Regions from separate parts of the Homo sapiens genome. Here region 1 is linked to region 2. Evidence: fine-mapped expression QTL. A gene starts in region 2. The other region holds a variant in brackets. All regions are shown on one strand. Distances are between the middles of the regions. Region 1 overlaps FBXL5 (F-box and leucine rich repeat protein 5). Region 2 holds the start of FBXL5 (F-box and leucine rich repeat protein 5).

The links.
Region 1: its variant is fine-mapped to the expression of FBXL5 in whole blood (INTERVAL, PIP above 0.99).

Annotation. Positions count from the first base shown.
Region 1 is chr4:15,619,492-15,627,829 of GRCh38, reverse strand. FBXL5 (F-box and leucine rich repeat protein 5) reads left to right here. Exons shown (of 11, transcript NM_012161.4): 8 at 875-957; 9 at 1,853-2,578. Among named protein-coding and RNA genes, the nearest start is that of FBXL5, 32 kb to the left of the region's middle. The variant C/T (reference allele first, on the strand shown) is at 3,710.
Region 2 is chr4:15,651,719-15,660,056 of GRCh38, reverse strand. FBXL5 (F-box and leucine rich repeat protein 5) reads left to right here and starts at 4,700. Exons shown (of 11, transcript NM_012161.4): 1 at 4,700-4,853. The coding sequence starts at 4,770. It also overlaps a transcript of FAM200B not described here. RefSeq lists an enhancer at 4,176-4,295 and silencers at 4,596-4,705, 4,630-4,807, 4,946-5,015, 5,046-5,265.

The DNA.
Region 1 (8,338 bases), 32 kb after region 2:
TGGTTTGCTCATTCCTGAGTTTAATTAAGGGGAAACAAACCCAAAAATGATTATTGAGTGCCTTCCTATGGGTAGGCATACACTGCTAGGTTACTTATTATTTCATTGCAGTTCTCACAACAATCTTTGTAGCATAATTATCATTACCTATATGTTACAGATGAGGAAACTGACTAGAAGAGGTTAAACATTTTATTCAGTTTCACAGATGTTAAGTGATAAAGCCCAGTTTTATGTGATTTTTTAAATAATATGTAAGGCATGGTAAGATGGGCAAATGAGATGAAATCACTGTTTTATAAAAGTGGATATTACGACTTCCTACATCAGAATCTTGAGTGTTCCTTAAAAATGTAAAAATCCTGGTTTAGTCTCATAACTGCTAAAACAGATACTTGGGCGGGTGCGGTGGCTCATGCCTGTAATCCCAGCACTTTGGGAGACCGAGGTGGGTGGATCATGAGGTCAGGAGTTCAAGACCAGCCTGGCCAATATGGTGAAACCCCATCTCTACTAAAAATGCAAAAATTAGCCAGATGTAGTGGCGTGTGCCTGTAGTCTCAGCTACTCAGGAGGCTGAGGCAGAAGAATCGCTTGAACCCGGAAGGCGGAGGTTGCAGTGAGCCAAGATACTGCCACTGCCCTCCAGCCTGGGTGACAGAGCGAGACTCTGTCTCAAAAAAAAAAAAAAAAAAAAAGAGATTCTCAGGGATTTGAGCCCAGAATATTTTATTATACTTTTTTCAAGTATTCAAGTGATTTTTTTTTATATTCACAAAAGTTTGTGAACTAGATTATGTTTACTAATAGTCATCTGTTACTTAGCTAACTGAAGTTCTGCAGATCTTTACAGTGACAATTTCTTGCCTTTTAGGTTAGGCAGATTTTAGAGCTTTGTCCTAACCTGGAGCATCTGGATCTTACCCAGACTGACATTTCAGATTCTGCATTTGACAGGTTAGTTATTTTAAACAATTTAAATATAATGAAAAACTATTTTATAAGGTTTCATTTATGTAATTGCAGTTTAATCATACTATTATTTTTTACTATCAAATCTCAGTCATGTCTGAGTATAATTTGATAGCACCCTCCAGTTCTTCACTTCTTACTCATAGGTCCCAGCTGATCCAAAAATCCCATCTGTATTATCTTGCAATCTCTGTAGTCCTATATTTTGTCTAGGCCCTTGAGCCCTGCTGTGCAACCATGTAGATTGGTATTATATGTTTTTAAGAAGTTTTAGTTTTAGTTGGGCTCTAAGTGCCATTTGGCAAAGCTCCCTCTTAGATTCTTCACAGTTACTCTGAAATAGTATAGTGTAACTTTCTTCAAGCCACCTTCTTCCCAGAGTATATCTCCTTGACCACCAATTCTCTGTATTATTGCTCACTCCCTCTTTCCCACCCAACTATTTATATCAGCACCTTTTTTCCTGCTGCAGAGGAAGAGGTATACTCTTCTCGGGCTAAAGCTAATGCTCCATCTTCCTAGAGCTTGTTTCTTATGGATCTTCCTCATTAACCGTCGGTTATTCTCTTTCTTTCATGTGTTTGCAGCCTTACTTCTGCTGACTACTTTTAGGATAATAAACTTAAGTCTTCCAATCCTTACGCCTCTCAAATCCTACCCTTCTGTTAGGTTAGGAATACTTTGACTTCCTTATTACTCTCATTGAGTTTTTGTATCCCTAGCATCAAGAATAGTACCTTAACAATAGATAATTCACTAAATACTTAAGTGATTATATTAGATGTCAAATCTTTCTTCTGGTTTTCATCTACATGCATATAGTCAAATGCTTTTGAAAAATTTAACAATATTCATTAATAGTCTTGTCTTTTAATTATAGTTGGTCTTGGCTTGGTTGCTGCCAGAGTCTTCGGCATCTTGATCTGTCTGGTTGTGAGAAAATCACAGATGTGGCCCTAGAGAAGATTTCCAGAGCTCTTGGAATTCTGACATCTCATCAAAGTGGCTTTTTGAAAACATCTACAAGCAAAATTACTTCAACTGCGTGGAAAAATAAAGACATTACCATGCAGTCCACCAAGCAGTATGCCTGTTTGCACGATTTAACTAACAAGGGCATTGGAGAAGAAATAGATAATGAACACCCCTGGACTAAGCCTGTTTCTTCTGAGAATTTCACTTCTCCTTATGTGTGGATGTTAGATGCTGAAGATTTGGCTGATATTGAAGATACTGTGGAATGGAGACATAGAAATGTTGAAAGTCTTTGTGTAATGGAAACAGCATCCAACTTTAGTTGTTCCACCTCTGGTTGTTTTAGTAAGGACATTGTTGGACTAAGGACTAGTGTCTGTTGGCAGCAGCATTGTGCTTCTCCAGCCTTTGCGTATTGTGGTCACTCATTTTGTTGTACAGGAACAGCTTTAAGAACTATGTCATCACTCCCAGAATCTTCTGCAATGTGTAGAAAAGCAGCAAGGACTAGATTGCCTAGGGGAAAAGACTTAATTTACTTTGGGAGTGAAAAATCTGATCAAGAGACTGGACGTGTACTTCTGTTTCTCAGTTTATCTGGATGTTATCAGATCACAGACCATGGTCTCAGGTGAGTTATCAGTTCCAGAATATTAAGAAATAGACGTGTTCTCATTTCCAAATGGAATATAAAAATTTTGATCTAAGTCATTCTTTTCAGTTGATTTACTTAGCAAAAAGGATTAACCAAGATCTGCCCTACTTCAGAGTTTTGGAGCAGTGTAACTTCTGTTATCAGTATGAAGTTTCATTTCTGTCAGTTCAAATCCATTGTGATGTATGGAAGAACATAAATTCTAAAGTTTAATAAATACTTAGTAAATGGCTACATCACATATTTTAAGGTACTTTAGTGGATGAAGAAGGTACAATTTTTACTCTCAAGAACATGTAACAAGAAAATATGCATATTCTGTTGCTGTGTATTATTTCTGTATGTTATAGTTTTATACTGAGGGTTTTGGAAAACGTAGGCTGTCCCTGGAAGTCATTTAGTCTGACTACACGGCTGTTAAGTGTTTACAAAAGCCAAAGCTGAGCTAGAGTTTCATATGTAGCTAGAGTTTAGAAATTTTGGTCTTTGATCATGATCAGCTTACCTTCTGTTGCTTTTTTAAGTCATAAAGAGAACATGTGGAAGAAGTTCTACATTTTCTTTTCTGTTTTTTTTTTTAATAAGCATAATCTTCAGCAGATTAAACCGACTTTTTTTTTTTTTTTTAACCTCCTAGAGGAAAGAAGGGCTGAAGGTGACACATGTGTCAGCCCAGACAGGTAGCTCTTTTCAGCAGCTAGGTTCTATATGTTTTATAGGACCCACCTCAAGATTTGTTAGGTTACGAGTATGCACTGTTGGAGAAAATACCATGGTGCACTGACTTGGGAGCATGGCAGACTTGATGTAGATTGATTTTGCTTTTTTCTGTATGACTGGCTTTGTGCAAAATACTTAACCTTATACTTTGAGGCTTATGTAAGAGGAATATATATAAGGCATCTAACAATGATACACAATAGATTTTCAATAAGTGGAAACTGATGTGCAGTAATCGATTATCTTTGACATGAGCCTTTGGAAATTGGATACATGCTTTTCTTTGATAATGGGATGTCAGATATTTTATAATGAAGAATTCTTCCAGCATAAAACTTAATACTCCCTACCATTAGAAAAGATACTTAATATGAAATTATTACAGGC[C/T]GGGTGCGGTGGCTCACGTCTGTAATCCCAGCACTTTGGGAGGCCAAGGCTGGTGGATCACGAGGTCAGGAGATTGAGACCGTCCTGGCTAACATGGTGAAACCCCATCTCTACTAAAAATAAAAAAAAAATTAGCCGGGCACGGTGGCGGGCACCTGTAGTCCCAGCTACTCTGGAGGCTGAGGCAGGAGAATGGTGTGAACCCGGGAGACGGAGCTTGCAGTGAGCCGAGATCATGCTGCTGCACTCCAACCTGGGCGACAGAGCGAAATTCCGTCTCAAAAAAAAAAAAAACTATTGTAAAATTTTTTCATAAGTCATATACAGTAACCAAAAGTGTTTTCCCCGAGGTAACTGGTATAACTGTGGTTTGGCTGCTGTGAATCATTTCATTAATTTTCTGTTTTCTCAAATCCAAGGGCATATGTTATAGTTTAAGAACATAAGCAAAGATAACTTTATTCTGAGTTTTATTCTTTAAAAAATTTTTATTACATGTCTGTATTCCTAACTGTAATATGATTTTGTTTTTGAATGCAACTTGATTTTAGAAAGTAAAAGCAATTTTTAGTTCAATTTAAAACCTCGTAATTCATTTTTCATTGTCATTTTTTTATTACTGTCATACCTTATTGAAATTTATTTATAGCTCTATTCAGTTTGCATTTTCAGTATGACCAGTTTTTGTGTTTTTTTCAAAGAATGAAGTAATACATGTGACCTTTCAGAGCCGCAATGACTTCTGACCATGTGGCAGTTTCCTTATCTTTTAGTTTTTTAGGATGTTTTAAAAAACCCAGAACTTACTAAAATTTTATATAATTAAAAATTGATTTCAAGGGCAGTCAAAATTTTGATGAATCAAAATTTTGTTTTTTTTGCTTTCAAAGTATTTAGAAACTCTTCTAGTATAAGGTTTTGGAAAACACTAGAAGGGAGCACACTTTATTTAAAAGCAGAATTGTAACGTTTTGTTTGAATACCAAAGAGTTTCCCTCCCCACTTCCTGAAAAGGCAGAGAGTTAATTTCTTAAGAGAAATTTGAAGAAAAGCAGAGAAAAGGTTTTTAGTTGTTATTTTAGGGTATGATTTTTGGCACTTCATTAACAAATTCTGATATTATCAACCTTAGAACAAAGTGGATAATTTACTGCTGTTGGGATTGGAAATAAGTTGCACTTATTCTTTAGGGTTTTCCTGAGTAGTAGTGAAGAGCTTGCATGTGAGGTATTCTTGAAAAGAAAGTTTGCGTTTGAATTGAAGGAAAAATTCATTTTGGGAACAAGGGAACACGTAGGATCTGTCTTATCTGTGGCTAATTGAAAAAGTCTTGTCTGAGTGCAGATTCCCTCATTTTAATTAAACCTTATCTTGAAGGATTCTTTCTAAACATTTAAATTTTCATTGAGCACCTACTACATTTCTTGCACTGTTCTAATTGCTAGAGGTCTAGAGTAACTAAGACAATTCTCTGCCTTCATGCAGTTTGTAATCTAATGGTAGAAATAGACAGAAAACATAGTATCAGACTGAATGTTCTGAAGAAAAGTAAAGTATGGGTACTTTACTTAAGAATACAGAGAATGCCACTTCATATTGAATGAACCAGGAAAGGCTTCTTTGAAAAGAAACAGGCATCATTTGAGTAGAGAGAGAGATAAAATTAGGGCATTCTGTGTACATTTCCTGAGAGACTGAGGAAATAGAAAATAAAAATTTAATTTTTAGAAGCAACTCTTTTTGCATTCATTGTATCGGTTTAAAAAGTGTTTCAGTCAACCAGTTACAGTAAGTACAACTTGTGTCAGTAGGTTTGAGGAAAAAATACAACTCATGTAAACATACAACTTAATTTATAGGAATAGAAATGTTCAGGTATACCAGTTGGGAGCATTCAGTGTATCCTGCTTTAGTCATTATGTTTATTCAGGATGAGTAGCATGAGTTTTGACAAGTTGGTAATGTGGAGCTTGTTAAAAGAGCATTGAGGCTGGGTGTGATGGCTTACACCTGTAATCCCAGCACTTTGGGAGGCCAACGCAGTAGGATCACTTGAGCCCAGGAGTTCAAGACCAGCCCGGGCAACATGGCAAAATTACATCTTTACCGAAAAGAAAAACAAAAATCAGTTAGGCATGGTGGCATGCACCTGTAGTTCCAGCTACTCAGGAAGCTGAGGTGGGAGGATGACTTGAGCCCTGGAGGTAGAGGTTGCAGTGAGCTGAGATGGCACTATTGCACTCCAGCCAGGGTAACAAAGCCAGACCCTGTCTCAAAAGAAGGAGCATTGACTGGAGAATGTTAAATTGATAAGGTTTTAGTTAGTTTGAAACCATAGGGAACAGATAGGGCCATTTGTGGTCTTAATACATTATTTTCTGGCTTTCATAGGAATGAAAATAAATCTTGGCTGTTAATTAAAAATAGCCTCTTATCTAAATTTTTAACTTTCTTTGGGCCCCTCATATAAGTGGAATCATACAATACTTGTCCTTTTGTATCTAGCTTATTTCACTTAGTGTGTTTCAAGGTTTATTCACATCGTAGCATGTATCAGAACGTCATTCCTTTTTATATACCACATTATGTTTATCCATCTGTTGATGAACACTGAGGTTGTTTCCACCTTTTGGCTATTGTGAATAATGCTGCTATGAATGTTGGCATATAAATATTTACTTGAATTCTTGTTTCCATTTCTTGTTTAATTCAGTGTACAAGTCCTTGGTTAAATTTATTCTTAAATATTACACATTTTGATGCTATTGTAAATACAATTTTATTTCTTAAACTTTTCAAATTGTTCATTGCTAGTATATAGAAGTATAACTGAGTTTTGCATGTTGATTTTGTATCCTACTATTCAGCTAAATTTATTAGTTCTAACATTTTTTTTGTGAATTCATTAGGGTTTTCTACATATAAGGTCGTGCCATCTACAGACAGATAATTTAATTTCTGATTTTCCAAAATAGACTGCCGAGACCAGCTCGGTCGGGGAGACCCTAACCCAGTGGCGCTAGAGGAATTAAAGACACACACACAGAAATATAGAGGTGTGAAGTGGGAAATCAGGGGTCTCACAGCCTTCAGAGCTGAGAGTCCTGAACAGACATTTACCAAAGTATTTATTAACAGCAAGCCAGTCATTAGCATTGTTTCTATAGATACTAGATTAACTAAAAGTATCCCTTATGGAAAACGAAGGGATGGGCCAACTTAAAGAAATAGATTGGGCTAGTTAACTGCAGCAGGAACATGCCCTTAAGGCATAAATCGCTCATGCAATTGTTTGTGGCTTAAGAATACCTTTAAGTGGTTTTCCGCCCTGGGCGGGCCAGGTGTTCTTTGCCCTCATTCCCGTAAACCCCCGACCTTCCAGCTTGGGCGTTATGGCCATCATGAACATGTCACAGTGCTGCAGAGATTTTGTTTATGGCCAGTTTTGGGGCCAGTTTATGGCCAGATTTTGGGGGGCTTGCTCCCAACAATAGACCTTTTATTTTTCTTGTCTAATTATTCTGACTAGAATTTCCAGCATTATGTTAAACAGAAGTGGCAACACTGTTTTGATTATTGTAGTTTTGTTGTAGGTTTTGAAATCAAGAGGTGTGAGTTTTCCAACTTTGTTTTTCCTTTTCAAGGTTATTTAGTATCTGGGGTTCCTTGAGATTCCATCAGAATTTTAGGGTCGGTTTTTTCTATTTCTGCAAAGAATGCCATTGAGATTTTGATAGGGATTGCATTAAATGTGTAGATCCCTTTGGGTAAAATTGACAACAGTATTAAGTCTTTTAACCCATGAATGTGGGATATCTTTCCATTTGTTTAGATCTTTTTTAATTTCTTTCAGTAGTCTTTTGTAGTTTTTGGTATCCAAGTCCTTTACCTCTATGGTTAATTTCTTAATATTTTATTTTCTTTGATGCTATTCTAAATGGGATTTTTTAAAATTTATTTTTCAGATTGTTAATTGTTGATGTATAGAAATGCAACTGAGTGTTGTGTGTGTCGACTCTTTATCTTTCTGAATTTTCTTTTTGTTCTTTTTTGAGACAGGGTCTTGCTCTGTTGTCCAAGCTGGAGTGCAGTGACATGATCATAGCTCGCTGCAGCCTTAGACTCCTAAGCTCAGGTGATCCTCTTGCCTCAGCCACCCTAGTAGCTGGGACTATTGGCATGTGTACTTGGCCTGCTGAGTTTATGTAGTTCTAACAGGTTTTAGGGTTTTCTGTATAGAAGATCTTATCATCTGTAAATAGAGATAATTTTACTTACTCCTTTTACTTTTTTGGGAGGGTGGGGGGAACTGGGTCTTACTTGTTGCTGAGGCTCAACTCAAACTCCCGAGCTCAAAGGATCCTCCCACCTAAGCCTGCTGACTAGCTGGGATTACAGGCATGTGCCACCTTGACATTCCTTTTCAATTTGGATGTCATTTATTTCTTTTTCTTGTCTAATTGCTCTGGCTAAAACTTCTAGTACTGTGATAATTAGAGGTGATAATAGTGTACATTTTTACCTTGTTCTAATCTTAAGGGAAAAGCTTGTATCTTTCACCACTGAATATGATGTTAGCTGTGAGTTTTTCATGTATATGGCCTTTATCAAGTTGAAGAAGTTCCTGTC
Region 2 (8,338 bases):
GAACTGATACTTTCCTAATACTTTTTTTTCCCCTCTCTGTAGGCAGGGATTAAGCAACTGCCTGCCAGATTTCATCACTACAATGAATGTAACTCTGACACTTTACAGGAACTTATCATTTCTTTCCATTCCAGAAACTTGTGATACTTTCTCACTACATGGTGCAAACAGCTGAGTCAAGTTGTCCCTGAGAGTAGCCACCTTTCCCTCAGGCCATACACATGGAACCATTCTTTCTCCCTACAAGTCAGCCCATAATAGAGCCTCTGGTTGAAAATCAAGATTTTGGTGTTCACTTGGCAATATTTACTAAGAGGTAAATGACGCAAGGTAGGTGACATAAAGGTATATTTGGGAAATGGAAGGCTCTTCTCTGTCTGAAAATTTTGCAAGGAAACTTTATGGACCACTATACACATTATATCTCCAGATTTAAAATGAAAGAGACTATGATTTTAGTATTATCTAAACTTCTCTTCAAAAGGAGATCTAAGGAATGGGACTACTCTATATTTGGACAGTTAACGTAGTTTGCGGTGCAGCTCACATTCTCCTGGTAGAAGGAATTAGAAATCTGAGTAAAGAGATTCCCAGAACTGAATCTTACCCAGTACCCAGTTTAGGAATCAATTTTTGCTTATGAGGTCAAAATGAGAACCCTTTAAAGGAGGGTAACAATTGTTGAAATTAGGACTTTAAATATAGCTTGTTTGGATTAGTTTTTCTTAAAAACCATATATGTATATTACTGAATAACAGGAGTATTTTGGTTTGTAAAAACTTTTCAAATTCTCATTCATGCAGCAAGAAATATTTTATGCCTACTATGTATGCCTACTACTTGTTCAGGGAATGTAGATAAACATTATTACATAATGTCAGGTACTTAAAACTGCTAAGAAATTAATTATTTTACTGGGTACCCTTCCATTTATGACATTCTTCTGATTTTTTGTCATTAAATATATTATTTAGTTAAAGCACAGGAGGGACTGAAATTAATGAGGAAGAAACATTGATCACTGCAGCTGATTAAGGATGGGGTGGATAGTATGAAACTGAGTTTAAAAGCTGGGAAATTCCAAGAACAGTAATCAGGATTTATTCAACTTTATATCTCAAGCTCCTGCTGCATATTGGGTGTCCAGTTTAACGCTGAATATGAAAAAATTAAGTCTCTGGAGTCCCAGATGGATAATTTTTCTTAATATTTAATGCTGAACTTAAGGGCCACTTCTACCAGAAAGCCCTCTGTGGCTATCGAGAAAGTAGATTAAGACATCATCCTGTATGTGCCTGTCTTAGTCTGTTTTCTATTGCTTATAACAGAATACCTGAAACTGGGTAATTTATAAAGAAAAAGAATTTATTTCTTACAGTGTGGGGCTGAGAAGTCTATGGTCAAGGGGCTGCATCTGATGAGGGCCTTTTTTCTGGTGGCGACTCTGCAGAGTCCCAAGGCAGTGCAGGACATCACATGGCGAGGGACTCAGCATGCTGGCACAGGTCTTTCTTCCTCTTGTAAAGCCACCAGTCCCACTCCTATGATAACCCATGAATCCTTTAATCCATGAATGAATTAAGCCATTCATGAGGGCAGAACTTTCATGACCCAATCACCTCTTAAAGGCCCCACTTCTTAATACTGCCTTATTGGGGATTAAGTTTCAGCATGAGTTTTAGAAAGGACAAACATTCAAACCACAGCAATTCCTAAATCAGCCTGCTGCAGCAGTTGTTGATTGACTATTTTGATGGACAGTAAGGATCAACTCTGGTACTGAGTGAGGACTATGATTCCAACTGGGTCAAAACGTAAACATTCTTTCATTGCTTGTTTTCACAACTAATCCCCTATTAGGGAAAGTGCTGTGTCACATACTCAAACGGAGTGAAATGCCTTAGAATTGACCCTCCCTGGCCAATAACCCTTTCCAGGGTTCTCAAAATTAGGCTTGGAAACTACTATAGAAGAGGCCTATTGATAACAGAATAAGTTATATTTTTAGGTTGCCAGAGAGAGAATGAGAGTAGGTAAGAGAAACGACCAATTCTACCAGTTATTCTACAATGTGGGTTTTCACTGCTCTGTTCACATGCCTTATTCAGACTTCTTGTGGTGGTCAATTGCTAGATGGTCTGTTGGAATTATCTGCTGTCATACATCCAAAAAGGTCTCACAGAGAGGTAAAGTGACAACCTTGGTCTTAATAACCCTCCCAAATCTGCTGTAGTTGCAGTAACCTATGGTAATGATACTACACTGATCAATGACCTCTTTAGAGCTAAAGTTCAGTAAAGTCAGTCATTTATTTTGGATATATCAGGTGATTAATTGCTACATAATTCAGCATATGGAGCTAATGTTAATAGCTTTCCATGGGAAAAATTACTCACAGGGATTATTTTTAAAATCACTTTCTTTCATTTTGTCATCTAAAACAAATTCCTTGAAATGGCCAGTGTCCAAAGTGGCTGTTACTACTTTTCAGCTGATTATAGAGCTTCAAATCTGGGTTACAGTGAAACTGTGTGGATGGACTTTTTTTGTTGTTGTTGCCAAATACCTTTTTAATGTGTCTGGTTCTACAGATGGATACACTAGTGAACAGCACAGACACAAACAGTTGATTGGACAAGACAACATAGCATATTAAACATTAGTAAAAATGAGGAAATTACACAGTGCTATGAACTACCCTCATTCTTTTTTCCAACATATTTACTGAATACTCACTTTATGACAGACATCATTCTAAGTGCTGAGGATAAAACAAAGTGCATGTTCTCATGGAGCTCATTTCTCTATATAACTGGTTCACCTGAGGTCTGATTCTGCATTCCAAGATAGCTGGAGTGAAAGATTAGTATGAGGTAAAGAAATAGAGGGTAAATAAGAAAATGCTCTCTGGAGGTTATTAAAAAATATAGAGGCAAAGTCCTGGCAAAAGAACGAGAAACGGGGTGAAAGGGAGAAGGAGGAAGAGAGAAATTAATCTTTATCAAATATTTTATTATTATTCTATTTCTTAAGCCTTATTCCTGCTTCTTAAGACAGACTGTGAATAAGCCATCTCTGTATCCCAACTAATGCAATGACTCTGGGGGTACTGTCAGATCCAGATTTATATGACAGATTTTTGACTTACTAATTTGTGGGACCCTAGGCAACTACTAGAATGTCTTGAAGACTTAATTTCCTGCAGCACTACCTCATAGAGTTGCTTTAAAAAAGTATTACTAGCTTACAGACGGTACTGTTATAAGTGCTTCAAATATATAAATCCTCATAAAGATTCTGAGGTAGGTATTATTAGCTTCATTTCATGTCAGAGCAAACTGAGGCATAAAGAAGTCATATAGCTTGTTAACGGTTGTATAGCTAGTGTCTGGCAAAACCAGGAATCTTAACTTCCAGAGTCTGTGGTTTAACCACTGTTCACACTGTCTATAATAGCATATAGTAATATAAGATTAGAACTAAATAGGGTGCATTCCACTGCAAAGTTCTTTCTCACCTTCTTCTACTCCATTATTTGTTGACTATTTACTGATCCCCATGTTGTCTTGCAACTGTGATAGATAATAGAGAACAAGGGTGAACACAGCATATCTGGTTCTTGCCCTCCTGGAGGTTCTGGCCATTAAGCAAATAACAATTCCTCCCAAGGTTCTCAGGCTTCCCTGTTTTCTCCTATTTCTCTATCTGTCCAGCAGTACTCCAGCCAACCAATCTAAGACTGACCGGCGTGAGCAGAGAACAGAGTCTCCAGGAGGTCTGTGGCCAGGGCCAGGCGATTTATGGGAAAGAGGCAGACATTTTCCTGGGTTAGTGACCTTGTTTTCTCTCCGAACCTCCGCTTAAAATGGCGGGATTTGTACCAAGGTTCTTTCCCGCACCAACCTTCCATTATTCACCCTTCTCCCCACCCCCAAGGCCCGTCGGGCCTATCCCTGACCCGCGTTCCTGCACTTGAGGTGCATTTCCGCACCTGGATCCCCAGATACTGTTTTTCCCCCACGTTGAGTCTCCCGAATTTCACGAGAACTCTCTCTCGCGGTCTCTGCCCCGCCCCTCGCACCCAGGCCCCGCGCCCGCTGTGGGCTGCCGCCCGGGACCGAAGCTCTCAGAGCCCGCAGCTCTGGTTCACCAACCGCTGGGTGGGAGCCAGGCCCGGCCTTTGAGTGGCGGCCGGGGTGGTCTGCGCTCGGCCCCAGGAAAAATCTGGCACGGGCCAATCGCAGGGAGGCGAAGGGCAGCTCCGGAGGTCCTGGCCAGAAGCATTGGTCACCCAGGCCAAGCAGGCGTCGGGGCGTGGGCACAAGCAGAGCTCGCGGCCCTGACCGCGGCCATTGTGCTTGGCTGCCTCTCCTCAAGGCCGTGGTGGGCAGGGCAGCAACGGGAGAAGCGCCGAGAGCGCCACTGCAACGACTTTCCCCTACCCTCAGCTACTGTGCTTTCATGTAGTGAAAGAAACAGGGAAAAGGTTTGGGTTCCTTCTGCGGCTTATGAAGACGACAAAAAACGAAAAGAGTGGGGGCGGGAGGCAGAAGCCGCGAGCCTCTGCGCGCGCCCGGTCACGTGGGCCGCAGGGATCGCATGGCGGCGGCCTGCGCGCCCCCGCGTCCCCGCCGGCCAAGCCGACCGGGCGCGCGCGCCGACGGGGCGGGCGCATGCGCAAGGGGGCGCGCCGCCTCTGCCCCGCGGCGAGGGTGTCTATGGAGAGGCGGCGGCCGCGGCTGCTGAGGCGGAGGCTGAGGCAGTGGCGATGGCGCCCTTTCCTGAAGAAGTGGACGTCTTCACCGCCCCACACTGGCGGATGAAGCAGCTGGTGGGGCTCTACTGCGACAAGGTAACGGAGCGCTGAGCCTCCCGCTGTGGGCGGTGCGGGCGGCGATGGGGAGCGGGCTGGGTTCTTGGGGCGGCCTGGCCTGCGCCGCGCCCGCAGCCCCGTGCCGTCGCCGCGCGAGTAGCCGCCTGCGCAGCTGTCAGCGCCGCCCGCTCCCGCAGCCTGCCCGCCCGCTGCGAGGCCTTCGCAGAGCCGGCCTGGCCGCCGCCTCGGACGTGCTCTCGGGGCGGGCGGCGTCCCCTGCCGAGGGCCTGGCGGCTGAGGAGGGGCGCTACCGGCGTCACTGGCCGCCCTCGGGCCGGCCCCACCGCCGCGCTGGGACTCCCGCTGCTGCCTCTAAGGAGAGCGGCCCTACCTCCTCGAAGCCCTGGGTGCCCCGGCCGGCCACCTGCGGTGGACTCCCATCTGCACCGAGTAGTTGTTCCCGTCCCCCGTCACTCCCCCGGGCCTGTTCGGGGCTCTCCGTGCAGACACCCACCCATCCTCTGCACCTCTCGCTGGCTTCCTGGCTGGAACTGCAGCGTCTCCCAGCTACCCGGTTCCTTTTACCCCCGGCTTTCTTCACTGGTTTGATTTGGGAGAAAAGCCAAGTTTAGAACTGAAGAACCTTCACTCTTCATGTGTCGTTATCGTTTTCCTTGCAACTTTTATTGCCCTGAACACTTACTGGATGTAGATTTTGTTATAAGACAGCAATTCTCTCTTGGATTTCTTTATATGAGCTCGAATAAAGGGGGCCTCAGGAAAAGTTGGTTTAACTGTGAGAACCATTTTGGGCCCATAATTGGTGCAGCATAAGCTGAAGAGGCACTTTTGTGGAGATGGTTCAGGGCCCTTTGCTAGTGATTTTAAAACAATATTAACATTCCACGTATTTGTCAGTTTATGTTGGGGAAAGTCATGGATATCTGCAAACCTCAGGCAGTCCCGTTTCTTGTGGAAATGATCCAACTAAATAAAGCATTCAAATGACTACTGTTTAAGCATAGAAATCAACTTTTAGGAATTCTCAGAAATTGCATAGCATTATGCAGAACCATTGTCTACAGAAAAGAGGGGTGTTTCATAGCTCAGCCAGGCGATTGGAGGATGCCCAGGGTATTCACTGTTAGGCCACACTCAAGACCAGCAATTTAAAGCAGTGACGTTGAATTTCAAATCTTAGCACTCCATCTTCTCCCTCCCTCCATTCTGAAAATTTAGAAACACCCAGTTCACATGAGTTGGAAACACCAGGACTGTCTAGGACAATGGTTTGCAACCTTGGTTGCTTATTAGCCTTAAACTAAAAACTATTAGAAGTCCTGATGTCTAGGTCACTAAAATTAGGATTTCACCCAGACATCAGGTATAAATGATTAAAGCTCTCCATTTGAGTGCAGTATGCAGCTGAGGGTGAGAACCACTCATCTAGGAGAAGCATGAGGAATGGTTAAGCCATTAAGCAAGAGGGTATATCCCTGAATTTTTTACTTAGCAGTATTATAGTGTTTTTATCCTCTCTGGCTTTTGAATATCGTTCATTCAGACACCATTCTTTAATAGCAGGAAAGAAAAAAAAAATGGTCTCAAAAATCGAAAGTGGAAGTGAAGACTAACAGAATCCAAGGTTTTCTCTCCACTTTAGACTGTGGAGAGGTAGCCTAGGATCACCTGAAATTATATGGAAAATTTTGTGCGTGTGTCCATTTTCCTAGGGTGTTTGTAGCTTTCATCGATTTCCAGATGATTGTGACCTCCCAAAATAAAGAATCACAATTTAATTTACTTGCAGACTAAGGCTAAGCAGCCTTATTTTAAAATTTTCAAGAAGTTAGTCGCTCTTTTTCTGTCTCTTCCTGGTGGTTGAGAGTATTTGAACAAATTTTGAAAATGCAGTTGCTTTTTTACAAGATATCTGAGCCAAGAGTCTTTTCAGTAATGTTCCCACTTGCATAACTAGTTTAATAAAGCATTTTCAATTTGACATGGTGTAAGTCAAAATTATTACTAATTCTGAATTAATTAGATATAGTTAATGAGATTGTTGTATACGTTTATCACGAAGATTAAAAGTCCAATTTTCTGAACTGAAACTGAGGCGATTTAGGGAAAAAAAAATGCATAGGAATTTTACATCTGGATTTCTTCTTGATACTGATAGCCAATGGAAATCTCTCTTAGGATGTCCTTTGGGAGCTAGAGTGGAAAATAAGTATTTTGTAATGGTTCAGTAATCTTAAAGGAATTAAAGGAAGAGTACCTTGTTTGTTTTTATCCATTTATCATCTCACGTTTTGCCATCCTTTGGTTGTATAGACCAAGGATATCCAACCAAACAGTTTACAATAAAACTATATAAAATGAGAACTAGTTTTTATGCTCAGACTAAAAAGGTACAAAATAGTTATTTCACTGTACAAATTTGGGCTCTGAATGCCCAGTTATTATCAAGAAGTCAGTTACTATTTTCAATATTGAACTTCTCAAGTAGAATGTATTTTAGAAGCATCCATTTATTTACTAGCATCAAGTAAACCACTTATATGCTTAAGCCAGTTAGTATAATGTATTCCAAAGTTATGTTAGTCTACTTATTTTTTAGGTATAAAGGTGAATAGGATGAGAAAATAAATTTTCAAAAGCTGACAGATGTATGTCTTAGACCATTTTAAATATTGCTGTACAATACCCGATTTAATACTTTGCCCATGGATTTCTTTTTACATCTGTAAAAAGTTTTATGGAAAGGTTTTTCACCTTTGTTATCCAGACAACAGTGCTTTGAGTTATGTAAAGACAAGGTATTTCTGTTTTATAGCTGGGGACTTAGAGGCCTAGATTAGCTAGGCCAAGGTTACATAAGCAGCTAGTGGTAGATTCAGATGGAAACCCAAGTCATTGTTAGGATTCCTAGTTTAATTTTCTTTATATTAAATCATAGTAGTTTCTTACTTTTTTGGGAACAATCTGCTAAGAAATCTCCTGCTAATTCACTGACCTTTCAGACTGGGATGATGTTAGTAAATATTTATATTGAATGACATCCTTTTTCCATTTTACTTCAATTTCTCAGTCTTTTCTCCAGTTCTCCAAGGTTAACTCCATTAATTCTGTCAGTGAGCATTGGAGTTTCTACCGTCTACTCTGTAGTAGCTTGTACTACAGAAAGACGTTGGCAATGTGACATGTGGTCTCTAGTCTCAAAAAGTTTACAGTCCAGTATGTAATAACATCTATGCTAGGATGGAAATCCAAATAGGGTATAGTGGGAGCAAAGGGAGTTACACGGTCAGCTCCACATTAAAGTGTCAGGAGTGGTCTCTTTGAATTGATTTCTGAGAGAAGAGTAGGCTGTGGTTGTCAGGATGTGGTTAGTTCAGAGATTCCCAGGCTTATATATAAACCAGTTATTAAAAACTCAAGTGGTGGAGGCCTTAAGGTGTGCCCAAATTTTTCAGGTAAGGGTATTAAAAGTGCTGTTTACTTTTATGAAAGAATTTATTTAT